Regions from separate parts of the Homo sapiens genome. Here regions 1, 2, 3, 4 and 6 are each reported to be linked to region 5. Evidence: microRNA targets listed by miRTarBase, many of them from high-throughput screens and not tested one by one. Region 5 holds a microRNA gene; each other region holds the end of a gene's coding sequence.

The links. The annotated mature microRNA hsa-miR-4421 reads ACCUGUCUGUGGAAAGGAGCUA and lies in region 5 at 2,746-2,767, shown strand. An mRNA with a match to its seed (bases 2 to 7 or 8) in the 3' UTR can be bound and repressed. Matches are read on the target gene's strand: a 7mer-m8 pairs with bases 2 to 8, a 7mer-A1 pairs with bases 2 to 7 and ends in A, and an 8mer does both.
Region 1: miRTarBase lists ZWINT as a target of hsa-miR-4421. Seed matches in the 3' UTR shown: 7mer-A1 at 4,406-4,412.
Region 2: miRTarBase lists WIPF2 as a target of hsa-miR-4421. The part of its 3' UTR that is shown has no 7-base or 8-base seed match.
Region 3: miRTarBase lists XPNPEP3 as a target of hsa-miR-4421. Seed matches in the 3' UTR shown: 7mer-m8 at 3,055-3,061 and 7mer-m8 at 3,497-3,503.
Region 4: the mRNA of B4GALT7 is a reported target of hsa-miR-4421. Seed matches in the 3' UTR shown: 7mer-A1 at 3,428-3,434.
Region 6: the mRNA of FAM110A is a reported target of hsa-miR-4421. The part of its 3' UTR that is shown has no 7-base or 8-base seed match.

Annotation. Positions count from the first base shown.
Region 1 is chr10:56,353,573-56,358,672 of GRCh38, forward strand. ZWINT (ZW10 interacting kinetochore protein) reads right to left here. Exons shown (of 9, transcript NM_007057.4): 7 at 4,984-5,100; 8 at 4,805-4,887; 9 at 3,655-4,613. The coding sequence ends at 4,846. Among named protein-coding and RNA genes, the nearest start is that of ZWINT, 5.1 kb to the right of the region's middle.
Region 2 is chr17:40,277,297-40,282,644 of GRCh38, reverse strand. WIPF2 (WAS/WASL interacting protein family member 2) reads right to left here. Exons shown (of 8, transcript NM_133264.5): 8 at 1-4,460. The coding sequence ends at 4,420. Among named protein-coding and RNA genes, the nearest start is that of CDC6, 7.9 kb to the left of the region's middle. RefSeq lists enhancers at 1-662, 663-1,599.
Region 3 is chr22:40,925,338-40,930,685 of GRCh38, forward strand. It overlaps XPNPEP3 (X-prolyl aminopeptidase 3), which reads left to right. Exons shown (of 10, transcript NM_022098.4): 10 at 932-5,348. The coding sequence ends at 1,098. Among named protein-coding and RNA genes, the nearest start is that of RBX1, 23 kb to the right of the region's middle.
Region 4 is chr5:177,608,976-177,613,213 of GRCh38, reverse strand. It overlaps B4GALT7 (beta-1,4-galactosyltransferase 7), which reads right to left. Exons shown (of 6, transcript NM_007255.3): 5 at 4,200-4,238; 6 at 2,884-3,674. The coding sequence ends at 3,519. Among named protein-coding and RNA genes, the nearest start is that of B4GALT7, 11 kb to the right of the region's middle.
Region 5 is chr1:51,057,134-51,062,481 of GRCh38, forward strand. MIR4421 (microRNA 4421) reads left to right here and starts at 2,704; the gene lies at 2,704-2,772. MIR6500 (microRNA 6500) reads left to right here and starts at 2,885; the gene lies at 2,885-2,970.
Region 6 is chr20:845,273-850,481 of GRCh38, reverse strand. FAM110A (family with sequence similarity 110 member A) reads right to left here. Exons shown (of 2, transcript NM_001042353.3): 2 at 4,205-5,209. The coding sequence ends at 4,790. Among named protein-coding and RNA genes, the nearest start is that of FAM110A, 14 kb to the right of the region's middle. RefSeq lists enhancers at 3,879-3,938, 5,167-5,209.

The DNA of each region.
Region 1 (5,100 bases), not on the chromosome of region 5:
CCAAACAGGAAGTTCCTCAGAGCCCAATGTTCTATCTATAAAAAGGGTCATTGAAAAACTGGACTGGGAATCATAATGAAATAAAATTATTTAATTTCACATTCTATTCATATCTCAGAACTTATACATAAAAGAGAGAAAGAGGCTCAAAGAAGAGACATAAACATTCAAGTTATAGAAATTCTGTAAGACAAGAATGAGGTGTATTAACCTCAGGCTCTAAAATAGGAGAAAATTAACATTGTGTGTAAATAGTTACGGCATTTTCAGAGTTAGCAGAAACTTCTCAGATGTTATCACTAACGCTTTGTAGATATTTTATTCCCTTTTGGAAAAACAAGCTCATAAAAACAATACTTCAATAAAATATATACGCCTAGTATTGTATGATGTACTGGTAGCACAGGGAAGAAAGCCATTTATTTTTAGAGATATTCAAAACCCTCACTGATCACCACTGCTGCAAAAAGTACAAGTTTAGCACTATAAGAGTTAAAGAGCAGCGGAAAATGCCCATCTTGTTATGGCAGGGGAGAGTATTAGAAATGAAACCTTAGTTTTATAAATTTCGAAACTGTACAGACAGAATGTGCAGTATTAGCTTTGCCAACACTATCTGGGATAATAAGAATATTTACCTGATAGAATAAGTCACATAAATTTAGAAGACCTTAATAATTTTAGGAGGGTACTTTGAACAAGTTTTCTCTCTCATGCTGTTTTTTAGAAACTGATCCTAGCAACTGGTTAGATAAAAATGATCAGAAATACTGAATGCAATGTGTTAAATGATTTTCAATGTTTAGAACTCTGTTAGAAAAAAATAACATTTTGGAAAAAGTAGATGCAAAAGAAGTCATAATATAGAAGTAAAATTTTTTTGGGGTGTTACCTCTGTGAAATCTCATACAAACTTCCAAGACACACTTAAAAATTTGGAATACCTCCTGTATGCATTGTGTTCCTTTTTCATTTTTGGCAACCATTTACATTTCCACCAATGTTTGTGGATCTACCCTCTATCAGTATTTTTCTTGAACTTGTGGGTTTAGTGATGAACAAAAATGATAAAATCTCTTCCCTATAAGAACATATATAATGACTACACATATACATAAGCCTATATGTAACTAATAAATTTTAAGGAACAATATTCAGAGGTGTGATACCATTTGAAGCAAATGGAATAAAAGAAGTAACAGTAAGATTACAAAATTTGGTGCATTAAAAATAACAAAATTATCTTAAATCCATTGAGGAACTAAACACTATTACAAATACATTTGAGAGGCAAGGGCAACAAAGGAAACCTCCTTGATTTAAAATAAAATCAATACTAAAATTATAATCTATTTAGAAATAATCAATAGCCTATGTATTAAAATATATGAATTATTCTCAGAGTGGTGGTCAAATAAAAATGTAAATATGTAAATGCGTTTGTTGGACTATAAAAAAGAACATATGTATTATCAAATATTAATTTTTAAAAATCCTACAAATATTAAAAATTAGAGCAGAAGGGAATAAAGACAAAAAATAATTAAAAGAATGTATTAAAAGCAACATTAAAGAAAATAATGCCAATACCTGTGTTTTTGAAAGACATATAAAGTAGAAAAAAGGCCTTTGGGAAATACTAATAAGAAAGAAAATAAACAACAGGAATGAAAAATGGGATAGCACACAAATATAAAAAACATTAAAAACACTCATTTTAACATTTCTAAGAGTTATACAGGTAATGCCCACAAGCTATTGACAGAAGTTAACACAAATTCTCTCAATTTTGTATCAGGCCGTAACGGTAAAATTTAGGAAAAATAGGCAGCTCAAAGTAAAACTACATGAACTATATTAAACAGGGAGTATGAGAGATAGGCCAATAAAGTTATATATTATGAACCTTTCCAAAAAAGATAATGAAGTGTCCATATATTAAGATAATAAAAAATAAGCTCGTATGTATACCTACTATGTAGTCAAATACATCAAGAATTAAAAAAAAAAATTTAAAAAGCTCAAAATGTAAGCCAGAAGAAAATATTCAAAAGCAGTAGTAAATTGAGATCTAATACAACTTATTGAAATGAAAATCAAAGATCAAAAATTAAGAAACTGATGAAAAAACAATAGCTTGGCTATATAAAGTTAAAATAGAAAAAGCATCTAGAATGCAATCTCAGAAAGAGCAATGGTAACTACAAAAGAAAGTTTGCATGACATGAAGAAAAAAGTTAGAAAATTTGATTGATGTCTAATTGGCATTTTAGAATAAGCTAATACAAAAGAGGTGTTTTTTAAACAGATAAACTGAAAATATTCCAGAATTGTTGAAAGAGTGGCAATTTAGAAAGCTCAACTATTTGCAAGCAGAATGAATGAATAAATAAGTAAACCAGAGTCCCAAACTATTCACAATATAGTAAAACTATAGAGCACTAAATACAGGTGTTAAAAGCACTAACTGGGTAAAAAAATGCATAGGAAGGGCTTTTAAACTGACAGTTGACTTCTCATCATCAAGGATCAAAACCAGATGACCAGAGAATCAGTTGAGTTAATCTTCAATGTGTTAAGTCAAACTGCCTACCAAGCATTCTCTACATAATAAAAACATTTCTCAAGAATAAGGATGAAATAAAAATATTTTCATAGTAAAATTTAAAACATTATACAGTCTGCAAACTCTAAGGGAAATTCTGAGACATTTATTTCAGATGGAAAAAGTATTCCACATGAAAGCTCTGAAATGTAAAAATAATGTGGGCAAAAATAGTAAATAAATTAGTAATAAAGCATTGACTGTATAAAATAATTTAAAAAATTAATTTATGAGAACACAAACAGGCTAGAAGTAATAAACTGGACAAAAATACCTTAATAGTTTAGAGTGGGATGATCTATCAATGGTTACAGCTGTTTAGGCTTCATTTATTAAGAAAAGGATGAAGAGTCTTTAATTCTTTAAATAACTTGAGACATTGCTAACTATGAAAGCTAAACTAGCCGGTCTAAATTAGACCTTCTAAACAAACAAACAACAAAAAGCATGAAGAAACAATAAAAAATAAAAGGCATGAAAGGGATAAATAAAAAGCCAAGAGAAAGCAAATAAAAAATTGACACAACTAGAAAATCATAAAGACAAATGTGACAAGAGTTTTTTTTTTTTTTATAAATAACCCTTTAAATGCTGTATACAAGTGGTAAATATAAAGAAAGGTTGAAACTAAAAAAGAATGGAAATTCAAGAGAAAGGATGTCAAGCAAAGGGTAACCAAAAGAATTGACAGTTATATTAATATTAAAACTAGTAGTTTTCAAGGTTAAACACATTAGCCTATAGATGAAGCAGGCTACCACACAAAGAGTTCAGTTCAGAAGAAAAATATAAATGTAAATTTACATATACCTTAATAAAGTAACTGCAAAGTATGTAAGAAAATGGAACTATAAAGACAAATGCACAAATCCACTATCATAGTTGGAGATTTGAACACACCTCTCAGGTGACAGACAACAAAAAATTAAGTATATAAGATATAAATTGAAACAAAAATTGCAAACATAATCTAATAGAAAATACTACACACAATCTAAAATGCATTCTTTCCAAACCTATGTGAAACATTAAAAAAGATGACATCACTCTTTATCAGTAAAAAAGATAATTCACTCACCAAATTTCAAAGTTTATTAAACAGATGATATTCTCTGACCAAATTAAACTTAGATTATCTTCTCACAATCAATAGAAGACCAAATTATTTTTCAAAGAAATTTATGAATCAATGAAATAATTATAACAGAATATAGGAAATGCTATGAATTGAATGATTGTGAAAATAAAGGAAGTCAGAAGAAATGTATAACCTTAAATATTTATTTGAGAAAACAAATAAAGATCCAAATACGTGAGTTGATCATCTGATAAAAGTAAGAGTTGACAAAAAAGGTACATCTTCTCCAATCCGAAAACAGAAAGTGGGAAAGATCAAGGTATCACTAGAGGTCAATGAAACAAAACATACAATAGTGGATGACAAAAGCCAATCTCTGAATCTTTGAAAAGAATATAATAAATGAACATCTGAAACCAGTGATCGAGAAATGTTTTAGATAAGGCACAAAAAGATACCAAGAATGTTAACACTAGGCTGTACATCCTAAAACAGTCAGATGAGCTCACTGTTATAATTCTGGTTCACCGCAAGAACCTTAGCACAAAGAAAGGACTCAACAAACATTTGGATCCATGAATAAAATTATCTTCCCACATATAACCACCTGCCTAAAACATTCTCCTCCTCCTTGAATTAAATTCACCATGTCTGCATCATAGGAGGCCCAAGGCCAGTACCCCCTCCCCATCTGCACACCCTGTGTTCAAACCAGTCCCAGCTCCTGTCATGTTATTGGCTTCTGAGTATCTGTATTAATAGTTGTTCCTGCCAGCATATGAAGATGAACAAATACACAACTGAGAGAGATCCAGGGATTTTAATCCACAGATGCCAGAGCTTGCTGGGATGTAGTCAGAAATCAAGCTGAACTCAGGAGTTCACAGTCTTTCCTGTAATGATGGTTGGGAGGTGAGGGAAGTCAGAGGCCTGGGGAAGAAGACAGGGGTTAGCTCTGGGTGGGCTAAGCATGGGAATGAGGTGTAACATAAGCTCTTTCCTGTTCCCACCATCCATCTGCTCCATGGGTAGCAGAGCTCAGATGCAGAGAGAGGTAAACCAGGCTTTCCCTCCTTCCACACTTGCAGTCCAGGGACACCAAGGCCTGAGTTGGGTCTGACCTTTTCTAGGATCTTTCTCCATGCTGCTGTCCTCCAGGAAGTCATGGCAAATTTACATCTCCAGCAGGTTGTAGACCAACAGCCTTGGAGAAATACAGTATAGACAGTGGGTAAGGCCAATCTCCCAGCTTCTGTCTCCACCTGCCAGCCCATGCCCACCTGTTCCATCTCTCATTTACCTTGAAGGACACACCAGGGTCTCTCCCCATGGTGTCTCCTGTACTCTGCTCCTGGGGTCGAGTCGGCTGCTGGGGTTTATCATCTGGAAGATTCTCTGCCTCAGCCTCAGCCTCAGG
Region 2 (5,348 bases), not on the chromosome of region 5:
AGAGAAATGTACCAAAGAATCCAACCTGAGACCAGATTATACATTTTAGAGGGGGGAAAAAATCAATGCTATTTGGGAGAGGGAGCACTGTAATCAGAATATAACTCCAAAATAAATCATACAATAAATTATTTTCTAAAAGAAATTGATCCACATGCAGACAGATGAACACACACACGCACACGCGTGCGCACGCACACGTGTCATTCTAGTCATTTATTCAGTGTTGACTGTGACTTCCATGGAGGGCACCATGAGAAAGGAAAAGATTAGACATGTGAAAAGAAGGCTAGGCCCCATCTTGCCACCAGTGGAATGAGATTTAAGACCACTAGAGAAGGAACCCACTAAATTGCCAGAAACAAGAGTAGAAAGAAACAGCAGTTATCAAGGAAGATTTTAATTGCTTCAAAGAGGGAAAGGAAGAAAGCACAGAAATCTAATGCAAGTAAAGGCACAATGAATGTGGAGTTGAATGGAACCAAACCCTTCCTTCGGTTAAAGTTATCCTTTTTTTTTTTTTTTTTTTTTTTGCGTGTGGTTTTGATGGTGGTTGTAGTTTTGTTTCGTTTTGTTTTTAAGAGATGAGTCTTGAAGGCAGAGTTGTAATGGCCCTCCTCTCTCCCCTCCCATTCCCGAAATTAGGGTAGCTTAACAGAAAGCCACCTTGACCACATGGCCAGGGACTGAGATTCAATGGGGAAAGAAAGACTGTAGCTGGAATGTGAAGAATTTGATTTGCAGTTGATTGCAGGTTGGGTTTCCGGAAGGGCAGACAGCTCAATGTAGTGCCATCATAGGGCCTCAGATGCCCACACTCCACCCCCAGAGCTTCACAAAATGGAAGGACCCTGGAGTCACCCTTCTCCCCCACCCCCATAAGCACTCAGCCTACAGATTATTTCAAGTGATCAGGAGAATTAAAACACACCCCAACCCTGAGTTGCTCTTTAGCAAGTCTATTTACAATTTTTTTCTCACCTCTCCCTGGAGGTAAATCTGGGTTTCAAGTTGGGAAGCCATGGGGTGAGGGAGTTCCCCAGTGCAATGGCCGATGACGAGTATCCTTGCCACTGCCAGTTAACAGGGCTGGGATGAGCTCCTGTAGACAGCAGCCTCACATCCATCAGCTAGGGTAGCCCTAGGTTCTCACTCTGTTGGCCTACGCTGTGAAAATGATGGGGCTCTGCAGTGGAGCAAATCCCCATGACAGAGAAAATCACACCTGGAATATCAAAGTGCTTTGGTCCAGGTTCAGTGACCAGAGAAGAGGAAGAGGGGCATCTAGCTCATTTAAAAACCTGGAGGTTTGCCCTGCTTCCCAGACAGGGCAGTAAGAAACAACTATAACGTTTTTCCCATTAGGGAAAAACATCACAAAACCAAACCCATAGAAGGGCTTTTAACACAGCTTCCTGATGCTTAGCTGGGCAATGTCTCTTCCTTCTGTGGGGGGACAAGGGAGTTAATGGGACTGGGCAACAGCCTCAACATGAGACCACCCAATCTTCCACGAAAGAGACGACATTCCCACAAGCAGATAAAAAGAGCAGTTTAAAAGGTGAGGAGTTTTAGTGCTCTTGTAGCCAGCCCACCTTAAACCTAAATTAGAAGCTTTTTACAACATACAAAATAGACTGATAACTATGCAGATCACATTCCCATCTTCAATAGTAAATATACATAGTAATAAATCTATTATTAACAGTGGGACCAAATAACATATAAGGCAGACATTTAAACAGGTGTTGTATCATCAACATGCTCTAAAAAAAACTCATCTGACTAGATCTAGACCCAGGCCTTTTTGCATGAGGCCAAGACAACAAGTATACAATCAATACCCATGTGACACAGTCCAAGTGCTGGGGAATATGAGGGGGCAGTGGGCCATGGGGAGGAAGATATCAGCCCCAGTGAAAAGCTGGGGTTTGGCTTTACTCGTGATATTTTGATGCTCTATGTCTGAGTAAAGGAGGAAAAAAAAAAAAACACTTTGATAACGTACAAAAGGCATCGACTCCCATTTCAAAAATAAATGGGAAGACTTCACAGTCAAAGTTCAGTCACTTGTCAGTATCTGCCCTGGAACTCTGATGCAGTATCAACTCTTGTACTCTCTCCTTTTCCCTCCACTAGCATGCCCTCTCTCAGTTGTTTGGTTTGTTTGTTTTCTGAGATGGAGTTTCACTCTGTCACCCGGGCTGGAGCGCAGTGGCGCCATCTCCACTCACTGCAACCTCCACCTCCTGGATTCAAGCGATTCTCCTGCCTCAGCCTCCCCAGTAGCTGGGACTACAGGCACATGCCACCACGCCCAGATAATTTTTGTGTTTTTAGTGGAGACGGGGTTTCACCATGTTGGACAGGCTGGTCTCGAACTTCTGACCTCAGGTGATCCGCCCGCCTCGGCCTCCCAAATTGCTGAGATTACAGGCATAAGCCACAGCGCCCGGCAGTTCTGTTTGCTTCAGGATGCTAGGGATACTTCTGGGAGATAACTGCTAACAGATTAGAAAGAAGAATGATACATAAAAAATGATTAGGAAAAGTTTGGTGACAGACCTAATCATGGTCTGTCCCAGAGTTAATATGGTCCAGGGGATGGCAAAGGACAGCAGACCCCATACACATTACCCCCGTTGAGCCCTCCCTCACCTAGCACTGGGGAGACTTGGGTTTCACCTGGCACCATGCACAGATCCCTAGCCTGTGATCCAATCAACTGGAAAGGTCTCTAAGACAGTTTAAGCCTGTGATGTGTGTGATTAAATTTTTTTTTTTTTTTTTTTTTTGAGACGGAGTCTGGCTCTGTCGCCCAGGCTGGAGTGCAGTGGCGCAATCTCGTGATTAAATTTTTAAGCTAATTTTCCCCATCCATTTCAAAGAGTAGCCATGGTCTCCTTGCTCTCATGCCACGCTCTGAGCACCCTCTACACATAGCAACAGTTGTAGAAAACCAAAGCATCTGGTGTGTGGAGCCCAAGAGCCCCATCCTGCTGTCGGAAAAAAAGAAGTCCTCATCCAATCAGCTTCCTACCTAGACTGGGGACCTCCATTTTCTCTGTGCTCTTTAGGACCCGGAAGACAAAGAAACAACCTATGGCTGGCTGCCAAGGAAGATCTACTGAACTGAGGCAAATCTCAACAAAGTCTTTGTGCTTCCTGGCATAGAAGAGTATCTGAATATCTTCATAAGCCTCTGCTCACTTCTTCACCCTTCTGTACTCTGCTGTGTTAAACCGTGCAGTCCTGGGAAGGCAAGGGTGGTAGAGAAAGGAACAGGAAGAGTCTGCTCAGTCAGGTGGGCTGTGAACTTCAGTACAGGCAGGACTTAAAAGTCCTTTGCAGCCCCACAAAGCCAGCTCCTTCCATGAGGGGCTTCAACCTGCCCTTCTTTGTTATCCTGGAGCACCTTCCAGGGGCTGAAGGACAGAAAGAGCCACTGACAACTTCAGGGCCAGTCAGAAAAGACTGAGGCAGACACAAGATTGAGGTTAAGGCCCAGGCCCACGCCCTATCTTCCTATCTCCCACCAGAGGTTTTTGGGGTTTGTGAATCAGGAATGAATGATGCCCTCCACAAAAAGTGACTTTTCTTTCAAGGGCATGGGCGGTAAGGGGGAGGAAAAACATCCCTCAGCCTAGCACCCTGAAGCAGTGGGGTGAGGGGTCCCAGAGGGTTCAAATGGCTCCTGTTCCCTTTGCTGCAGAGAACTGACTAGTTCTAAAATGGTCTTCAGTTTATTTCACCCTTTCTTTTTATTAAATGTTAAGTTCAACTGATTAGTATTTAGTGTTTATATCCAATTTATCCCTGGGGTGGTGGGGTGGGGGGGCAGCAGGTGAGAACAAAAACAAAATACCCCCAAAAATAAAGCAGACCCAATTCCTTGCCCTTTCTCCAAATATGACCTTTAAAACAGATCACTTCTTGGCAAACTCCTTTCTTGCTTCACTAAAAATGCTCCCCTCCCACCCATAAGTCCTGGTCATGCCAGCCTCCTAAATGATGAAATATAATATACCTGCCAAGCTTCCCCCACAGTGGACAGGAGAAGGAAGGAGTACCATTCTCCACCCTGCCCTAACAGTGAGTTAATTCATCACAACAAGGCACCTTTCCCCAAGAGGAAGGCAGAAGACACGGAAACTTGTTCCTCATGTGGCTAGCAGGGCTTGCTGGAGGAAGGATGGATGCAGGGTTTGAGATCCTACTGTCAATATAGAGTCTGATCACCAAATCCAGAGATGAGATGCATAGATGGAGGTGAGCTGGGAGGACATTTGGAGTCTAGGGCTTGATTGCATTGGAGAAACATGTTAGGAGCTCTCATGCAGGTTTCAGGGGAATGGAAGGGACCATCTGAGAAGAAGAGAAGGTCCATCCTTTTCCTGAGGAACGGGACCAAGCCAGGCTTCACCTGAGAATGGGTGGCAGAGGTGGGGCTCCACGGGCAGCTGAAAAAAAACAAAATAAAGACCACACACATACAGGTCACCCACCAGAATCTGAACAACCCACACATTCCTAAAATGAGAGACAGGCTCTTTAAGCTAACCTTTAAAATCTGGGGACTACGTGTTATTATTGTTTTGCCTAAGAAAATGAAGATGAGTGGCCAGGCAAGGTGGCTCACGCCTGTAATCCCAGCACTTTGGGAGGCCGAGGCGGGCGGATCACCTGAGGTCAGGAGTTTCAGACCAGCCTGGCCAACCAGGCAAAACCCAGTCTCTACTAAAATTACAAAAATAATCCGGCATGGTGGCACACGCCTATAATCCTAGATACTTGGGAGGCTTAAGCAGGAGAATCACTTGAACCTGGGAGGCAGAGGTTTGGGGTGAGCCGAGATGGCACCACTGCACTCCAGCCTGGGTGACGATAGGGAGACCCTATCTCAAAAAAAAAAAAAAAAAAAGGACAACGAAGATGATGAGAAGCAATTTTTTTTCTTTTTTTTTGAGACGGAGTCTCCCTCTGTCACCCAGGCTGGAGTACAGTAGCGTGATCTTGGCTCACTGCAACCTCCGCCTCCTGGGTTTAAACAGTTCTCCTGCCTCAGCCTCCCGAGTAGCTGGGACTACAGGTGTGTGCCACCACGCCCAGCTAATCTTTTGTATTTTTAGTAGAGACGGGGTTTCACCGTGTTAGCTAGGATGGTCTTGATCTCCCGACCTCATGATCCGCCCACCTCAGCCTCCCAAAATGCTGGGATTATAGGCATAAGCCACCGCGCCCAGCCTAATTTTGTATTTTTAGTAGAGACAGGGTTTCATTATGTTGGTCAGGCTGGTCTCGAATTCCTGACCTCGTGATCCACCCACCTTGGCCTCCCAAAGTGCTGG
Region 3 (5,348 bases), not on the chromosome of region 5:
TGATGGTTAAATACTGATGCTGGTTTTGTTTTGAAAACAGATCTAAATTTTAGATTTCAAGTATTTTAATCTCTGTATAAATTATGGCTGTGAAATGTCTTTTATGCCACCCTTTGAACCTAGTCATACATTGCTATCTGTGGCCATAGATATATCATTTAGTTCAATCTGTTTGGTACATGGGCGCTTCCTTAGACTGCGCTACATTTTCCTTTGCTGATCTTTCTTTTTCAATCGCAGAGCAGTATCTGTGAGGATAGTGGAGGAAGTTTACAACTTGTTTAATATAAAAAGCCCTGGTATGTGTCTAACTTCATGATTAGAAAGGGTACCTGGGGTTCCTACATTTTTCCAAATGTACATTAAAGTCTTTCAGTTTCTCTTGTATTTTATATTACACACATCAGATATATTTAAATCTTATAATGACTGTCTCTGCAGCTTCCAGTTGTCAAGGCTAATAATCTCTAAATGTTTCTTTGAATACAGTTTAAATATATTTTGTCTTTATTTTTGCAAGGTGCTCTTTTTCCAAGGGACTCTTAGGCAGGGGAAGAATGCACTTACATAATCTGCTTGTCCCCCACATATATTGACGTACTTTTAAATTAAGTAACTTTATTGGCCTGCTTGAGCCACTAGAATATGACAGAATCATGATCAGCATTGCCGTAGTTGTATTTAGCTTGTAGTCCAATATAAAGATAACCACAATAATAATTTTAGTAATGATACCAACATGTGTTGACCATTATATGCCAGCCACTTTGACATGTATTATCTCATTTAATCCTCACAGCTTTACTAGGTAGGTACCATAAAGATCCAGTATTACAGAGGAAGGAATTTTAACCCAGAGGTTAACTTACTTGCCCCAAACCACCCAGTTACTATCATTCCTGAACAGCATGTTCTTCTTTCTACTTCACAGGCATTTATATTCCAGAGGATGACAAAGATGCCCCAGAGAAGTTTCGGGGTCTTGGTGTACGAATTGAGGATGATGTAGTGGTGACTCAGGACTCACCTCTCATCCTTTCTGCAGACTGTCCCAAAGAGATGAATGACATTGAACAGATATGCAGCCAGGCTTCTTGACCTTCACTGCGGCCCACATGCACCTCAGGTTCAAAATGGGTGTCTTCTGGCAGCCCTGCACGTGTGCTTTCTGAGTGTCTCTGTGTGTGCATTAATATATGCATTCCATTTGGGAGCATAGCAGCTGTGTGAATGTATGTAATTGTGTGTGGGGGGTTTTTTGTTTTAAGTAGTTAGAAGTCTGGGAAAATGAATTTTTGAATAGTATGTTACTGCAGCTTTGGTAACATTAATTCTATAGAATTAATGATCAGAGCAAGTTTAATTTTTAAACATAAAGGTCTTGGTTACACATGTCCATGCATTCCAGTTAACACATTTAAACATATAGAAAATTCACTTCTTCTTTCAAGTCCTTCCCTTTCTATACTTTTGCTGAGATCAACCCAATATCATAAGAAGTTTGTGTGATGCCTGTATTTTTAGCTAATTACCAAGGTCTCTGCCTATGCAAAAATTCATCTTTCGGTGATTGTGGGCGGCCAATACATACCTTCTGTAACTCCTCCCTACCTATTCTAGATCCTGCATATCTACTGGAGCCATATGAGCCCTCAGGGGCACTGGTGTCCTGCAGTCTTACTAGTCAGCCACAGTCCAGGTTCCAGCAACACTAGCTACCTACCAAACAAAACACTTCTGAGCTTTTCTTGCCATTTGGTTGCCTGGGACCTGGAAAGTGTTTAGATTCTTGATAAAGATGGAAATGGAAGAGAAAGAAAATTATATATGTATATACTAAAGATCCAGACATCAGGGCTGGGCACAGCGGTTCCGCCTGTAATCCCAGCACTTTGGGAGGTCCAGGCAGGTGGATCTCTTGAGACCAGGAGGTCAAGACCAGCCTGGCCAACGTGGTGAAACACTGTCTCTACTAAAAATACAAAAATGAGCTGGGTGTGATGATACATGCCTGTAATCCTGGCTACTTGGGAGGCTGAGGCATGAGAATTGCTTGAACCTGGGAGGTGGAGGTTGCAGTGAGCTGAGCTCATGCGACTGCACTCCAGCCTGGGTGACTGAGCAAGACTCTGCCTCAAAAAAACAAATAAATAAATAAAATCCTGACATCCTGCCATCTTTTCTCTTCAATTTAAAGTTGATTTCTTAATGATGACTTCAAAAATTAATAAAAAGAAAAGAAAAAAATGATTTCTGGCCGGGCGTGGTGGCTCAAGCCTGTAATCCCAGCACTTTGGGAGGCCGAGGTGGGCGGATCACGAGGTCAGGAGATTGAGACCTCCTGGCTAACACGGTGAAACCCCGTCTTTACTAAAAATACAAAAAAAATTAGCTGGGCGTGGTGGCGGATGCCTGTAGTCCCAGCTACTCAGGAGGCTGAGGCAGGAGAATGGCGTGAACCCAGAAGGCAGAGCTTGCAGTGAGCCAAGATCGCGCCACTGCACTCCAGCCTGGGTGACAGAGCGAGACTCCGTCTCAAAAAAAAAAAAAAAAAAGAAAAAAAAAAGAAAGATTTCTTTCGCAGATATCCCTGCTCCCTCTATAGATTCTTAATGCACTGACCCTCACAGGTTACCCTTTTAGCTGTTGTGCTGCGCAGGAGCAGATCCTCTACTTACGTACCCTGTCAGAGTCACAGTAGTAGCGCCCAGTTTTCAGAGAAGTACCCCTGTTATCATTCTGTGATTTCCTCTAGTGCTAATAGAAACAAAATATGGAATCTACCAAGTACCCGTAAATATCCTATGATTCTTATCTTTCTTTGATACTAGCACTGGGAGTGCAGTGGTAAAGAGTCATACTTCTTTTTTTTTTTTTTTTTTGGAGACAGAGTCTCGCTCTGTCGCCTGGGCTGGATGGAGTGCAGTGGCGTAATCTCAGCTCACTACAACCTCCACCACCTGGGTTCAGGCAATTCTCCTGCCTCAGCCTCCCAAGTAACTGGGACTACAGGTGCACGCTGCCATGCCCAGCTAATTTTTTGTATTTTAGTAGAGACAGGGTTTCACCCTGTTGCCCAGGCCGGTCTCAAACTCCTGAGCTCCGGCAATCCGCCCACCTCAGCCTCCCAAAGTGCTAGGATTACAGGCATGAGCCACTGCGCCCGGTGTAAGAGTCATATTTTTTTAAACACAAACATTGGATACAATTATACAGCAACTCAGTTTGCAAGATGAACAGGGCTAGATTACCACAGATAGCTTATTTAGGAGCGTCTGTGATAGAGGGAAGCTTTAAGAACCAGTGTGTTCACCTCCTTTAAACCTGGATATGAGGTCAAGATGTATAAAACATGCCAATTGTTAGAACACAAATTTGAGGGTTTCTTAAAAAAACAATTTGTATTAGGGAAGCACAAGCTAGGGGATTAACAATCTCTGTAATGCTGGAAGTTTGCCTATCTTATCAGGGAAACCCAGGGTACAGAGTGAAAAGCAGACAGGCAGTGACTTCCTCAAGAGACAGATAATGTGAAAACAAAAGTGATACAAATCATATCCTGACAGTGCTAGCCTAGGAATGCCTGGCTTTGCGCACCTTATCTAAGCAGCTCTCAGAATGGAGGCTGCACAGCTGGAGTCTCCATCCCCCATACCCACCTTCCCACCTCCCTCCAATTTCTCAATCCAGAGCTTTTTAAAAAAAGGGGAGGGAAATAACTCCACAGCTCTGGCTGCTCACTTCCCAGGCTCTGTGCCCCCAACAGCCCTTTCCTTGGATTGTGTTTCCTTTGTTCATTTGTAATCCAGGAATAAGGAATTTCCTTTTCTTCTTGTATCATTTTCTTTTCTTTTCTTTTTTTTTTTTTTTTTGAGACGGAGTCTCACACTGTCACCGGGGCTGGTGTGCAATAGCGAGACCTCAGCTCCCTGCAACCTCCATCTCCCAGGTTCAAGCGATTCTCCTGCCTCAGCCTCCCGAATAGCTAGGAATACAGGCGCCTGCCACCACACCCGGCTATTTTTTTGTATTTTAAATAGAGACGAGGTTTCACTGTGTTGGCCAGGCTGGTCTCGAACTCCTGACCTCATGATCTGCCCGCCTCGGCCTCCCTAAGTGCTGCGATTACAGACGTGAGCCACCGCACCTCCTGTATCATTTTCTATGGTCTAAACTTTTCTAGCTAAAAGCCTAGGTAGCTTGTATGTATAGCAGCATACTTGGACATGAAACACACTTCTGGTTAGATTCCAGTCAAGTTCTATAGGTGTTATTGGTAGGCAGAAAGGCTGTTGTAGAATTCTTCTGGTGATTTTCAGTCCCTGACCCAGGTATATTGTCCTTTGAGTCCCAGATTAACTAACTATAGCAGCTAAGCATTTGAATCAGACTTCTCATAGCAATGTTATGGGCTGTCTGATATATTCAGGATTTGTTGAGCAGATAAGCTGTGTGTGATCTTACTCATTCTCAGCCATGCCGCAGACATACCCATTTCCCTTTAGTAATTTTTTAATACAGAGAATGCTATTAACTGTTACTGGATATCAAATAATTTTATTTTTCTAATAGTATTTTCCAAATATTTCTTAAAATTCTTAAAATTTAGGTTAAAGTTTGCTGGTCTCTTACATTTAATAAAGCTGGGACTTGAAGACTTACCATAGTTTTCAACTGCCTTTGCAAGTTCATAAACTTCTAAGGGTAAAAAGTGAATAAGATAAATTCAGAGTTTTAAGGTAAAGGCTTTATATTAGCTTTTTTTTTTTTTAAAGGTTTTTTGTGGGGTTTTTTTGTTTTTTTTTTTTTTGAGATGGAGTCTCGCTCTGTCACCCAGGCTGGAGTGCAGTGGCACGATCTTGGCTCACTGCAACCTCCATCTCCCGGGTTCAGGCAATTCTTCTGCCTCAGCCTCCTGAGTAGCTGGGACTACAGGCGCGTGCCACCATGCCCGGCTAGTTTATTGTATTTTTAGTAGAGATGGGGTTTTACTGTGTTAGCCAGGATGGTCTCAATCTCCTGACCTCATAATCTGCCCACCTCAGCCTCCCAAAGTGCTGGGATTACAGGCGTGAGCCACTGCACCCAGCCTTTTTAAAGTTTTTAATTGACATATAATTGTACGTATTTACAGGGTAAATAATGATGTTTTGATACATATATAATGATCAGATCAGAACAATTAGCATATCCATCACATTGAACATTTATCATTTATTTGTGTTGAGCCTTTAGTTCTTTTTTTTTTTTGAGATAGAGTCTCACTCTGTCACCCAGGCTGGAGTACAGTGGTGTGATCTTGGCTCACTGCAACCTCCACCCACCGGCTTCAACCAATTCTCCTGCCT
Region 4 (4,238 bases), not on the chromosome of region 5:
AAAAAGGCCATGTGTCCGTCCATTTGGCCTTTTGGGAAACAGTCTGCAGTGGAGTCGACCCTCCGTGAAGGGAAGGCCTGATGGCGTCTGATTGATCCTGCTAGGGAGGGCTCCTACTGGCTCTGGGGGTTTAGCATCCCCACGCCCACTCACCTGCCTCATTCTGGCTTCACCATCTCTCCCTTGGACTGGGTGCTCTCCTTCCTCAGACTCCACCCTGCAGTCCACCCTGGGTCCCCCAAAGGATCTTTGTTATCCCCCAAAGGATCTGTGTCATAGAACACAGGTAAGTGTTCAAAAGTTCTCCCCTGGCCGGGCTCACACACATAATTCCAGCACTCTGGGAGGCTGAGGCGGGCAGATTGCAAACATAGTGAAACCATCTCTCTACTAAGAAAATACAAAAAATTAGCCAGGCGTGGTCCCACATGCCTGTAATCCCAGCTACTCCGGAAGCTGAGGCAGGAGAATCTTGAACCCGGGAGGCAGAGGTTGCAGTGAGCCGAGATCGCGTCACTGCACTCGAGCCTTGGCCACAGAGTGAGAGAGGCCCTGTCTCAAAAAGAACAACAAAAAAAGTTCTCCCATGCTTGAAACTTCTCAAAGCCCCTGCACCCCTAGAATAAAGTACAAGTTGCTTAGTGTGGCATTCACAGATCCTCATGACTCACCCCAGCCTTCCCTCTGCTGCCCACCTCCCCACTTCTGCACAGTATCGTGGGTGCCAGGAACACTCCAGCTGCTCCTGGGTACCTGACACACATGCTGGCTCCAGGCTGCCTGCCTTTGCACATGATGATCCCTTCCCTTTCCTGCTGACAAATTCTCCACCAGCAAGACTTTGCCTCCTCGGGGAAGCCTTCCCCAAGCACTCCACACAGCTCTCATTTACAGTGCCACACTCTGGGTCCCACTAATGCCCCATCGGCGCTCCTCAGCACCCAGCAGCAGAATCCCTGTCTTCCTCGAGGCAGCGGAGCCTGAGGCAGATCCTCTGCATCTCCACCATGCCCCTGTTTTCCTCTCAGCCCTCCCCATCTGCCCTTTCCAGCAGGGGAGAGGAGGGAGGCCTGTAGGGAAGGAACACCTGCTCATGGGCACCTGCTGTACAGGGCAAAGGGGAAGAAACCTGGCTCTGAAAGTGGATTCCAGGGGTTCCCAATCCCAGCCCCCCATCCCTTACAGCTCTGCGACCTTGGGCAAGCTACTTGCCTGTCTGTGCTTTGCCTTCCTGATGTACAGAACCAGTGAATTAGGACCCAGCTCTTAGGTAGGGAGGCCTAAGTGAAATGCGGTGTGGAGAATTTGGTTATCTGGTGAATGTTCAACAAGGGATGGTTATTATTATTGCAACCACCGCCTCACTGGCCAAGCGCTGTGCCAGGTGCTCCTACATCCTGGGTAGGTTTCGGCCACGCCCTGGCCAGCAAGGCAGGGATGTCAAGTCCATTCCACGAAGGAGGCAAGTGGGGCACTGAGGCGGCACAGGACTGCCGCTTCTCGCCACCCATGGCTCAGGCGTCTCCCACTCTCCTGGAGAGTGGTGGAGGCCCAGGATGCAGAGTGAGGGGAGCTGCAGATTTGGAACGCGTCAGGCCCAGCCTGGAGTGCCCAGCACAGCCTTGAAGATGGAGGTGGGGGTGGCGGTCAAGGGAAGCAACAGGCTGCAGGGCTAGGGATGCACCTAAGCTCAGGTGTCAGCTGATCTCAGAAGGTGGAGGGACCTTCGCTTTTCTTCTGCTCATTGCACTCCCCCAGTGCAGGTGGAAAGGAAGGAACCTCCATTTTCTGAGGTCTTCCTATGTGACAGGAGAGTGCAGAGCTGGGAGCTTTGATATTACACCTGTTCCCACCAACTCCCAAGAGCTGGTGTTACTGCCTGGTGTCCATGTCAGTCCAAGATGAAGCAGCTGGGATTGTCCAGGGAACTGGCACAGTCCCCTCTCCACCACCCCTGCACTAGAGTCGAGGCCTGTCTGCCCATCACAATAGTGGGTGTGGCTGAATCGATGGGGAAGGTCAATTTAGGATCACAAAGACCCTGGACTAAACACCTGAACCTGAAGCTTTACCCCAGCCCTTTCTGCTTAAATCCCTCGGCTTATACACAGGTTACACAGTGCGCAACCCACACAACTGCACACAGCAGCCCTGATCATCCTCAGAGAAGTCTTTTGAACCAGAGCTGTGGATTCCACCTTCCTGAGCTCTGGGATGGTGCTCAGGAATCCCTTCCTTCAGGACTCCAGGTGTCCTGGTGTTAAAACAAACCCACATTACTGGGGCCTGATGGTCTCCTCTGCCTTCTGCCTTGCATCTTTGGCAGCCAAATGCCTTGGAGTGGCCTACATGCAGGGTCCCTTGCCTCCCACTCTCATGGGCTCTGGGCTTCCCTCCAAGTGATTCCCCCAAGAGCACTCCCCAGTTCATGTCTTCTCACTGCTCCTGGGCATTCAGTGACCACTGTAATCCCTCTGTGCTGAGGGAACACCACAGGGATCCTCCCACTTCTCCCCTTCTCCTCCCCACTCAAGCCATGACCCGAGGCACCGGCTGAGTGCCCTGCCTGCCTCTCTCCAGTCCTGTGGGTGAATCTCCTCAGCCACTCTCCCTCCTCCGTGTCTCAGTGAGGCCGGAGGAAGCTTACCCAGAGAGAGCCTGAAGGTGGTAAGACTGCTCAGAAGGGCATTCGGGGGCTGCCCAGAAGCCTTGGTGGGGTGGAGGTAGTACAGGAACCCTCACACCTTTGGCTTCTCCTCCCCCCTGGACTTGTCGTCCCCGCCCCACCCCAATTCCTTGCCAGCTTGTAACTCACCCGTCCCCTTGCCCCTCAGCCAAAAGTGACATGTGAGCGGTCCACGACACATTTTGTCTGGCCTGCCATACTTTTTGAAAGTTTCATTTAGGTGCTATCATTTAAAAAATCAGAAGATATCACTTAAGAATCCAGCATTCTAGTTTCTTTCGAAAAATCAGAAGATCTGGCAACACTAGGCCCACATTCCGGCATGGCAACAACCAGCTAGAGCGGTGCTGGCTGTTCCCCCTCTGTGGGGCTTGTGCTCTGGTTTCTGAAGTCCTAACCCTCACCAGGCCCAACTGCCACCTACGCCAGCTGCATGGCCCCTACACTGTGTCTCTGCACGAGGCAGCCCAGCAGGAAGGAACAAAAGTGGGGGTGATGAGAGGTTGTCCTGTTCAGCCCTCCCCACTACCCACAGGCCTGGGCACGTGAAGGAGGTCAGAGTAGGGTGAGCAGGAAGGCAGGGGGGGTCCCGGACAGGACACACCCCAGCCTCTCTCTGATCACTGTGCATGGCAAGCAGCGTCCCAGGCACCCCACGTGTCCTGGCCCAGCCCAAGCCTGCCTTGGCGGCCGGGTGGCTGCAATTGCGTAGCTTGCTGTCTTGGTCCTGGCCACTCCACATCCTGTCAGAGCTGGGCCCACGACCTGAGGCCTTGTCCTGAGCCTGAGCAATATGGCCTGTAGGTACAGGCTTCCTCACTGTCCATCCAGCTCAGCTGAATGTGCACCAGGGTGTGGCGGTCTTGTCACAGTCCAACATGATGTTGAGGACAGTGCAGGGGGCCCCGCCCACAGACAGGGCAGTGCGGGAAGCCACATGGTACTTCACAGTGTTCAGGCCTCCCTCCCTGTCCACCTTGAACTGCTCCTGGGGAGGAAGAGAGGAAAGAGCACGGACTCAGGGCTGCATGGGTGCCAGCTACCCACTGACCCCACACAACCTCGCCATCAGAGGTCCTGTGGTCCCCACTGGAGAGGAAGAACCCAGAGCTCAAAGCAGTGAAGCCTCTTGCCCAGGGCTGTGCCCCACTAGGAAGCAGGCGAGCCGGGATCTCCAGTTGGATGCATAAGCCTCCTAGAGAAGGGGCTGTTTGAGGGTGGGATCCCTGCATCCCGGGTGTGGCTGGGATTCTGGCACCTTCAGCTACGCCTCCGCCACCCCACCCTGCCAGCCTGCATGGACCCTGAGGTCTGGGCTGACCCACAGTGCCCAGGGTGCCCACAGCAGCCACCAGAGCAGGGCACGGTGCCCAAGCAGAATGCCCGTCGACTGACCTGGGCCAAGCAGGGGAGGATGGGACCATTTGGGCCAAGGAGAACTTGGTGAAAGCCCGGGCCTGCTGGCTCCCCACATGACCACCTATCTGTCCCCAATGAGGAGCCCTGCCAGCACCTGTTTTTGAGCTGCGATGCGCTTCTGGTCCCTCTTCCG
Region 5 (5,348 bases):
ATATTAACTATATTTGTCCATATATTTTCCTTTACTCATAATATTTATGCTTTTATATGTTTTCATTATACTATTTAGTGTGTTTTCATTTCAATTTGAAGAAATAACTCTTTTAAACATTTCTTTTACGGCTGGGCTAGTAGTGACAGACTCCCTTTGTTTTTGTTTGTCTAAGGAAGAATTCATCTCCCCTTCATTTTTAAAGGATAATCTTGCCAGATGTAGATTCACGGTAAGTAGTTTTTTTTTTCCAGTTCTTTCAATATATCATCCCATTCTCTTCGGCATGCAAGGTTTCTGATGAGAAAGCCACTGATAGTCTTATGGTGATTCCCTATATGTGATGCATTACTTTTCTCTTGCAGCTTTAAAATTCTTTCAGTGTCCTTTATTTTAGACAATTTGATTAAAATGTACCTTGGTATAGTCTTGAATTGATCCTCTTTGAAAACCTGTAAGCTTCATGAATCTGGATATCCATTTCCCTCTCAAAATTTGAGAAGTTTTCAGCCATTACTTCTTTATTTTATTTTATTATCATTATTATTATTATAATTTTTTGAGAAGTAGTCTTGCTCTGTCACCCAGGCTGGAGTACAGTGGCACAATCTCAGTTCATTGCAACGTCTGCCTCCCAAGTTCAAGTCATTCTCCTGCCTCAGCCTCCCGAGTAGCTGGAATTACAGGCACCTGCCACCACACCTGGCTAATTTTTGTAGTTTAAGTAGAGACAAGGTTTCACCATGTTGGCCAAGCTGGTCTTTAACTCCTGACCTCAGGTGATCCACCTGCCTCGACCTCCCAAAGTGCTGGGATTACAGGCATGAGCCACTGCACCTAACCCATTATTTCTTTAAAAAAGCTTTTTACCTCTTTCTCTTGCTTTTCTTCTTCTAGTACTCTCATTATGCACATATTGGTTTGCTTGATGGTGTCCCATAAGTCCTATAAATTTTCTTCACTCTTTTTCATTCTTTTTTCTCCTCTGACTGGATAATTTCAAATAACCTGTCTTCAAGGGCACAAATTCTTTCTTCTGCTCAATAAAGTCTATTTTTGAAGTTCTCTATTGTGTTTTTAATATCAGTCATTAGGTTTTTTGGTTCCAGAATTTCTTTCTTTTTCTTTTTTTTTTTTTTTTCTTTTTTTGAGTTGGAGTCTCATTCTGTCACCCAGGCTGGAGTGCAGTGGCATGACCTCAGCTCACTGCAACCTCTGCCTCCCAGGTTCAAGTGATTCTCCTGTCTCAGTCTCCTGAGTAGCTGGGATTACAGGTGCACACCACCATGCCCAGCTAATTTTTTGTATTTTAGTAGATATGGGGTTTCACTGTGTTGCCCAGGCTGGTCTCAAACTCCTGAGCTCAGGCAATCCGCCTACCTTGGCCTCCCAAAGTGCTAGGATTACAGGTGTGAGCCACCACTCCCAGCCTGGTTCTTTTTTATAAGTTCTACCTTCCTGTTGAACTTCTTGTATTGTTCATGTATTCTTTCTCTGTTTTCAGATGAAATCAGACATGTTCGAGGTGGTATGGCCGTAGACTCTTTTTCTGTTTTCACTGAGTTGTCCAACTGTGTTCTCCTATTGCATGCTGAACTTCTTTAAAAACAATTATTTCTAATTGTTTGGAAGGCAATTTATAGATATCCATTTCTTTGGGGTTGGTTATTGGAAAATTATTGTGTTCCTTTGGTGGTGTCCTGTTTCTTTGATTTCGTGTGTGCGTATTTCTTGTAGCCTTGGGCTGTTTCTTTGCATATTTCATGGAGGAGTAACTTCTAGAGCATATGAACTGGCTTCATGGAGGAAGACTGTCACCTACAGGTTGGTGCAAGTGATGGCAGCAGTGGCCTGTCTGGAGTAGCCACTGTGAAGATGCCGGCTTCAGCAGGGGAAGCACAACTGGGGCTGCACACTCTGCTGAGCCCACGGGTGCCGGGAACAGGTGGGAGCCCCACCCCCTAACAAGTCAGTGGAGCAGGAGCCACATGCTCCCAGGCACAGCTGCAGCTTCTCAGCTGTAGCCACAGACCCAGGCATCCCTGAGGTCTCAGGGGCCCCGGAAGCCCTTTGTTCCCGTAGGCTTGAAAGTGCCTGCTCCCACTGCCTGGCCTCTCCCTGCTCCTGGCCCCCACTCTGGGGCAGAGCAAAGTTGTGGCAGAGCCCAGGCACTGTTGTGACCCAGCTGGGTACCCAAGCACTCAGGGCAGTGCTGACATGCCAGCCCCCTGCTGTCTCAGGCCATCCAGACTTTGGGAACTGAAGAGCACAAGAGGGAGACCAAGGGGTTGCTCAGGGTGGCTCAGTGTGGGCCTGTAGGCAAACCTCAGCATGAACAGCCTGGGCGGCATGGACAACATGTTGATGGTGACAGGAGGCAGACAGGCTCCTGGGCAGAAAGGGGCAGGTTCCCAGTGAAACGCAACCTTCAAGCCATGGATGGCATGAAGCCTGGGGGCTGGGCTGTCAGCTCCAGGTGGAGTCTGCGGCCTGGAGTGAGAACTTATGGTGCTTTTTCCAGGCCCGCCCATGGCCACCCATGGGCCAATCAGAACACACTTCTTCCTTTCTGAGCCCATAAAAACTATGTTACCTAGCTAGACTCATACAGATGTCAGGACTACCAGCTGCAGGAAGGAGCTACCCACTTCAGGTCTCCTCTACTTGTCAGTATGACCTGCCTGTGGAAAAGAGCTACTCACTCTGGGTCTCCTTTCTGCTGAGAGTTGAACACTTGTTGGGACAACCTGTCTGTGGAAAGGAGCTACCTACTCTGGGTTTCCTCTCCCCTGAGAGCTGGACACTCATCTGGACAACCTGCCTGCAGCTAGGAGCTACCTTCTCTGGGTCTCTTCTCTGCTGAGGGCTGCACTCGTCAGGACTACCTGCCTGCAGAAAGGAGCTATCCACTCCAGGTGTCCTTTCTTCTGAGAGCTGGACACTTGTTGGGATGACCTGCCTGCAGGTAGGAGCTGCCCACTCTGGTCTCCTCTCTGCTGAGGGATGCACTCGTCAGGACTAACTGCCTATGGAAAGGAGCTACCCACTCCAGGTCTCCTCTCCCCAGAGAGCTGGACACTTGTCAGGATGACCTGCCTGTGAAATGGAGCTACCCAATCTGGGGCTCCTCTCTACTGAGGGCTGAACTAGTTGGGATGACCTGCCTGTGGAAAGGAGCTACCAACTCCAGGTCTCCCAAGAGCTGTTCTGTCACTCTTTTGCTCAAGAAAGTTCCTTTCTGCCTTGCTCACCCTCCAGTTTTCTGCATACCTCATTCTTCCTGGACACAGGACAAAAATTCAGGACCTGTTGAATGGTGGGACTGAAAGTGCTATAACACAAACAGAGCTAAAACACCTGCCTCCACCCCACTCGTCACACTGCAGGCAATGAGAAGGAGAGAAGAGCTGCAGCCCTTCAGGGAGCTCAGATGCACAGGCTCCCCCAGCCAGGGCTGTGACACCCTCTTTGGGGCTCTGTGGTTTCTAGTGTCTTGGAGCTTCCAAGTGCCACCATGTTCCCCTTGTCCAGATGTGAGTGCCCAGAGCAGAAGCCACTTATAGTGCATCTGATCCAGCCACAGGCTTGAACAGAGCCAGCACCTGTGGTGGCACCTGGAACTGCCCACCCCACCACAGCAGCCAATGCTTGGCTGTGTGCAGCAGCCAGACCCCATGCTTGCTTACTTGTGCACCCCTCTCCTCTCCATGCCTGGATCATTCTTTGAAGGTGTGGGAGCCAGGCCAGTAGCATGAGCTGAGTGCAGCCTGCCAGGCCGAGTGGGTGGAACAAGCCCAGCAGGCTTGAGCAAAACTCTGGCAAAGGCACCACTGGCCACAGAGGTTTCCAACTGGAAAAGTGACACCTGGAGGATGCCATGACACAAGGATTCTGACTGATGGGTATGCAGCCCTTGGTACAACACTGAATATAAATGGTAAGAGTGAACGTCCTTGTCTTATTCCTGATCTTAGGTGGTACTATGGTTTGAATATGATTTGTTTGGCCCTGCCAAGTCTCATGTTGAAATCTGATCCCCAGTGTTAAAGATGGGGCCTGGTAGGAGTGTTTGGGTTGTGGGGGTGGATCCTTCATGAATAGCTCTGTACCATTCTCACGAGAGTGAGTTCTTACTTTTAGTTCCCACAAGAACTGGTTGTTGAAAAAAGCCTGGTACCTCCTCTAGTCTCTCTCTTGCTTCCTCTCTCACCATATGATATGCATATACCAGCTCCTCTTCACTTTCTGCCATAAGTGGAATCAGCCTGGAGCCTTCACTAGAAGCAGATGCCAATGCCATGATTCTTGTGCAGCCTGCAGAACCGTGAGACAAATGAACCTCTTTTCTTCATGAATTACCCAGCCTCAGGTATGCCTTTATATTAATAGTAACACAGACTAAGATGGGATAATTTTTTCAAGCCTTTCACCACAAAGTGACATTAGCAGTGTGTTTTCATAGATGCCCTTTATCAGGCTGAGGAAGTTTCCTTCTATTCCAGGTTTCTTGTTTGTTTTTTTAATCATTAAAGTGTGTTGAATTTTCTCAAGTGCTTTTTCATATCTATGACATGACTGTTTGGCTTTTGTCCATTATTCTATTAATATGATATATGATAATGTATGCTGAGCCTGTATTCATGGAATAAATTCCACTTTGTCATGGTCCATAAATATTTTTATATGGAGCTGGAATCATTCTGATAGTCTATATTCATAACAATAGTTTATATTCATAAAGTTACTGGAAAGAATTTGGCTGTTAATCTTATCAAGAATACCTCAGAGATGATGAGCTGCTTCTGTCTTTCTGCTTTCAATATACTCTCTGTGCCCTTGGTTTTCCAGTTGGTTATGTTGTGTATAGGTGTGCATCTCTTTGCATTTATACTACAGTATAACCTTGAACAACATGAGGGGTTGGGGTGCCGACCCCACTAGTCAAACATCCACATATACATACCTGTGAGAAGAGGGTAGAAAAAAAATCCACATACAACTTTTGACTTCCCAAAAACTTAACTACCAATAGTCTACTATTGGCCAGAATGTTACTGACAACATAAACAGCTGATTAACACTTTTTTTAATGTTATAAGTATCATATACTGTATTTTTACCATTAAGCCAGCCAGAGAAAAGAAAATAATAAGGAAAATATATTTACTATTCATTAAGTGGGTAATCAGAAAGGAATTCATCCCCTCTGTTTTCACATTGAGTAGGCTAAAGAGGAGAAGGAAAAAGAGGGGTTGGTCTTGCCATCTCAGGGATGGCAGAGGTGAGTAAAAGTTCCATATAAGTGGACCTGAACAGCTCAAACCCATGTTGTTCAAGGGTCAACTATA
Region 6 (5,209 bases), not on the chromosome of region 5:
TGAAAACATCAGACCAGAAAGTCAGTCAATATGTGCCTAAAATTGGTCAGACACACTGGCTCACGCCTGTAATCCCAGCACTGTGGGAAGCCAAGGTGGGTGGATCACTTGAGGTCAGGAATTCAAGACCAGCCTGGTCAACATGGTGAAACCCCATCTCTACAAAAAATACAAAAATTAGCCAGGCGTGGTGGCACACACCTGTAGTCCCAGCTACTTAGGTGGCTGAGGCAGGAGAATCGCTTGAACCTGGGAGGCAGGGGTTACAGTGAGCCAAGATCACACCACTGCACTCCAGCCGGGGCAACAGAGCAAGATTCTGTCTCAAAAAAAAAATAAATATATATGTGTGTGTGTGTGTGTGTGTGTGTGTGTGTGTGTGTGTGTATGCCTAAAATTGATCAAGAAAACAGCAGGAAAAGCAAGTTATTTAAAAATATGGAGGAAAGTACCAGAAGAAATAGTTTAAGAAGTTGTAAGTGGTTGCTTTTGGGGAGCGAGGCTGATGTAGAGGAAAGGACAAGGGATGCTGCTTGTTAGTACTGATATATATGGATATAAAAATATGTCCATGGTGGGCAGGCAGCAATCGGCAGGAGAGCGATGCAAGGAAACTTTCTGAGGTGATAATGCTTGATACCCTGATAGGGGTTTGGGGTACAGTATGCATTTGTCTAAATTCAGCAAATGGCACCTTTAAGATCTGTGCATTTCATTCCATGTAAATGTTACCTAGAGAGGAACAAGACAAACAAATATTGAATTCTAGCTAATGGCATGCACACTAAAGTGACTTTAAGGGAAGTGTACTGATATATGCAACTTAATTTGAAAAGCTTTATTAAAAAATAAGTTGTATTAAAAAAATAAGTTGTATTAATGGATGGAGAGATGGGTAGATTCCTGATAGAGCAAATATAGTGAAATATTAACAAGTGTGCATTAGTAGGTGGGTATATGAATGTTCACTGTCTAATTCTTTCAACTCTATGTTTGAAATTTTTCTTAATAAAATGTTGGAAGAAATATATGAGTGAATTATCTGAAAAATAATATTACCTTTTATTTTATTTTTATTCTACTTTAAGTTCTGAGATACATGTGCAGAATGTGCAGGTTTGTTACATAGATATGTATGTGCCACGGTGGTTTGCTGTACCCATCAACCAATATTACCTTTTTAAAAACCTGGATGGGGTGTTCACTCCTTTTTTTTTTTTTTTGAGAGGGAGTCTTTCTTTGTCACCCAGGCTGGAGGGCAGTGCTATGATATTGGCTCACTGCAACCTCCACCTCCAGGGTTCAAGCGAATCTCATGCCTCAGCCTCCCAAGTAGCTGGGATTATAGGTGTCCGCCACTATGCCTAGCTAATTTTTGTATTTTTAGTAGAGACGGGATTTCACCACGTTGTCCAGGCTGGTCTCAAACTCCTGGTTTCAAGTGATCCGCCTGCCTTGGCCTCCCAAAGTGCTGGGATTACAGACGTGAGCCACCGCACCCGGCCGGGTGTTCAGGCCACCCAGATGGACCAGCACAACTGTAAGCCCTCCTATATGCACATCTAATTGGCAGCCAGCTGCAGCCATGCTCTCATCTATATCCTATGACCCTACCCTGGGGTCCTAGAGTCAAGGACCTATAGCCAAATTCCTCAACCCTTTCCTGGTCCCCTGTACACAGGATATCAGGTAAGATGGGGGTGGGGGGTCTCCTTAAATGTTTCAGTAGCAGGAACAGAACTATTTAACCAAGGACAGGGAACAGGCCTCTGCAGCTACACTCCATCCTCTGCCAAAAGGGTAAACTGAGGTCTGTGGGGGGGGGGCTGCCTTTCCCAGGGCCCATCCACCTTCATGATAGAAGTGAGCAGCCAGGTTGCCTGGTTCCCAAATCCACGTGTATATAATTAGCTGGTGGGAAATGGATCAGAGAGCAGATCCCATCTCTGCCTAATTAGGGGCTAGGCAGCTGGGGCCAGGCTGGCCTGGGGGAGCTGCTTCGGAGGGCTGGGCAGCCCCAGGAGACAGGGCAGCAGCTGCAGGCCCTCCGAGGGCTCACACTCCAACTGGAGGCAGAACAATAGAGGGGCTGTTTCCACAGATCCCCAAGGCTGCAGGGTTGGGGGAGGGAGGAGTGCAAAAGCCCCCCGCCCTGCTCCCTCCACAGAGGCCTGCAGGGAAGGCGGGAGGCTCCAGAATCCTGGAACAGGGGGAGCCCTCCCAAGACCAAGCCATAACCATTGGAGAAGACTCAATCTGGCACCTTCCCCACTTCCAAGAATCCCTCCCTGCTCTCTCCCCAACAGACCCTCCCAGTGGATTTATGGAAAGGCGTTCTCTTTTCAGCTATCCCCTGGTCCAGCTCCTGGGAACAGCTCTGGTTTTAGGGCAGAAGTCCCTAAGTATACCTGCTTTACATTCTATGATTATTTATGTGCTGAATGTTTAGTTGCCCATTCTCTTCTCCAGACTAGGACAGGGGCCATGTCTGTCTTATCCACTGCTGGGCACCCAGTAGATGCTCAGTAATAAAGTGACCAGAAGAAAAGGCTGCCAAGATGAGGAAGAGTGGTGGGGTACATGCTGGGAGAACCAGGAATCCAGACTGCGATGTGTCTGGCAGGCAAGAGTGTGACCCCAGGCTGTCCTGCAGACCTGCTATGTGACAGTATACAAGTCGCTATCCTTCCCTGAGCTCAACCTCCTGCTCTGACAATATATCTGGTCCTCAAAAGGCTACCTTGAGGATTCAAGCACTGTACCCTCCTTCAGAAACAAGGTGTCACCCACCAGTCCTGTGACCTGAACCTCAATTTCTTCACATGTAAAATGCAGCCAGCCCATCCACCTTCTTGGGTTACTCGGAGGCTGCCAGGTCACAGCAAGGGGCAATGACTAGCCCTGAATTCTAGCAGGGTTGCCTAGGAAATCTAGTCTTTGACACCTCAAAGGGCACCACGTCTGCAGATCCTGCCTGGATTCTCTCTCCTGACACCATCACTCCTTCAGCATGGGGACCCTGGAGGCCCAGCTCCTGCATTGTCAAAACTGCTGGGCACCATGGGGGGTTGTGGGTAGGTCACCACCCTCCTCATGCTTGTCTCCCCACCAGTATCATGAGCTCCAGTCTCATGAGCTGGAACACCATCTTCTTCTAGAACCCAATTTTCCCTTCCTTCCCCAAACTGCCCAGGCCCATCCCAGGCCCCTGGGGGCTAGTTGTAGACAGGCAGACAGACAGAGAGATGGACAGCTGGGCTGATGTGGATGTTTGTCAACAGTCCAACGGAAATCTCCTCTTTATGCTTAAAATAAAACCTACATCAAACCTGTCACCAGGGCCCCCATTAGAGCTTCCTGTTTCTGAGTGCTGCAGCCAAGGCAGCCTGTGAAAGGAAGCGCCACCCACCCCCTCTCCACGCCCACCGTGGGGCACCAGAGAGGCCACCCCCGCTTTCGCCCTTTGTAGGCCCAGCTCTAGCCCTAGCTGCTCCACTAGCCAAGGTGGGGTGTCCTAGTAGGTAACTGACCTGGAGGGAGACTGGAAGAAGCTGAGGCCTCGAAGCCCAGTGCCAGCCCCTTCCTTCCCCTCTCCCCAGGTATTGGAATATAGCATGAAGGGCCCAGAATGCACCAGTGCCCCAACCCAAGGAGGACTGTGCTGCCTAACTCTCCCACTGAGGCCCAGAGGGAAACTGGCTTGTCCAAGATCGCCAGGGAGGCCACTCATTTTGTGCCGTCCACCCCAAGTCTCTCTTCCTCCAAAACTCCCACTTCTCATCCTCACTCTATGGTCTGTGTGACCTCAAGTTCAGGATTTGCCCTCTCCGAGCTTCCTGCCCCCTTGGGAACTGGGCAGGGCTTGGATGGAACACTCCTGGTTGGGGAGAGTCTATGCACCCCATCGGCCTTTCCCCTGCAGGCTCCCTTTCTGGTGCAGGGGAAAGACCCCATTCCTACTCCCAGCTCTATTCCAGCTCACTCATGGCTGGATCTCAGTTTCCTCCTCGATGAGGCAGGCCTGCTAGCCTTCCAGGAGAGTTATGAGAACCCACCACGGGGACATGTCTCCAGCCAGGCCAGCCGCTATCATCATGCCCCACCACTAGACCTCGGGGTGAACAATTACTGTTTTGATGGCCCCACCCCAAGACTTCTCTCACCCTTTCTCTTGTGAACACAGAAGAGTCTGAAGGCCCAGCCCTTGAGAAACAAGCATTTGTGTTTATTAACCAAGGAGAGGGAAGTCAAAGCAATGCAGACTCCTAACCAGTCCCTCCTATAGTCTGCCCACCTAGGCCAGCTGCCAAGGACTAGGAAGAGCAGTGGATAGGCCCCTCCCCACTGCCCCGACCCCAGGGTGAGTTCTGCTGGGTAAGGAAGAGGAAGTCAGCAAAGGACAGAGGCCAAGGAAGGAAGGAGGAAACAGAGCCGCTGGGGAGACAGGATTGAGGAGATCCCTTGGCCCCTCACTCACAGTGGGGAGGGCAAAGCACCGCAAATGCAGCCCCACAAGAGGAACTAAGCAGGAGTACACTCATGTCAAAAACCTTGTATTGGGGGAGGGGAGGAGGGGGTTCTCAGGTGTCCAAAGCCAAGAACAAAACCCTTGGAGAGTCAGTCCTTGCCCAACAATGCTGGTCCAGCCTCTAAGCCTTTGCCTCCATACCAAGTTCACAACAGGGTGGAGCCTCTGACACGGCCGTCTAGAGAATGGATGCAAGAGAGGTCCAGGGACCACTTGCCTCTGTAAGATCCGTCCTGTGGCGAATTCCAGGCCCAGTGGCGCCTAGCCTTCAGCTGCTGGGCTCTCCCGAGCCTGCCTTAGCCCATACAACCACTTGATCACGCGGGCATTGCGCTCCACCACCGACACGCCATAGGGAACGCGCTCCCGGGCCCGCTCCTCAACAGTCACCGAGCTGCGGCGGGAGCAGCCCCCTTCAGAGCTGCCCGGCCCAGCACTGGGCCCTGCCAGGGACACGATATCCGAGCTGGCCCGTGCCAGGTGGGCCACACCCAACCCTCTCGCCTCCTCCGGGTCCAGGCCGCAGAAGTTAAAAAAGCGCTCGAGATCAGCGGCTGCCCTAGAAAAGCGCTCGCTCAAGTCCGACTTGGAGCGTTGCAAACCCGGCGGCCGGGCTGGGCTGGAGGCGGCGGCAGGGCCGGGTGATGGGCAGGGCCGGGCAGGCGAGGCGGGCAGGGGGCG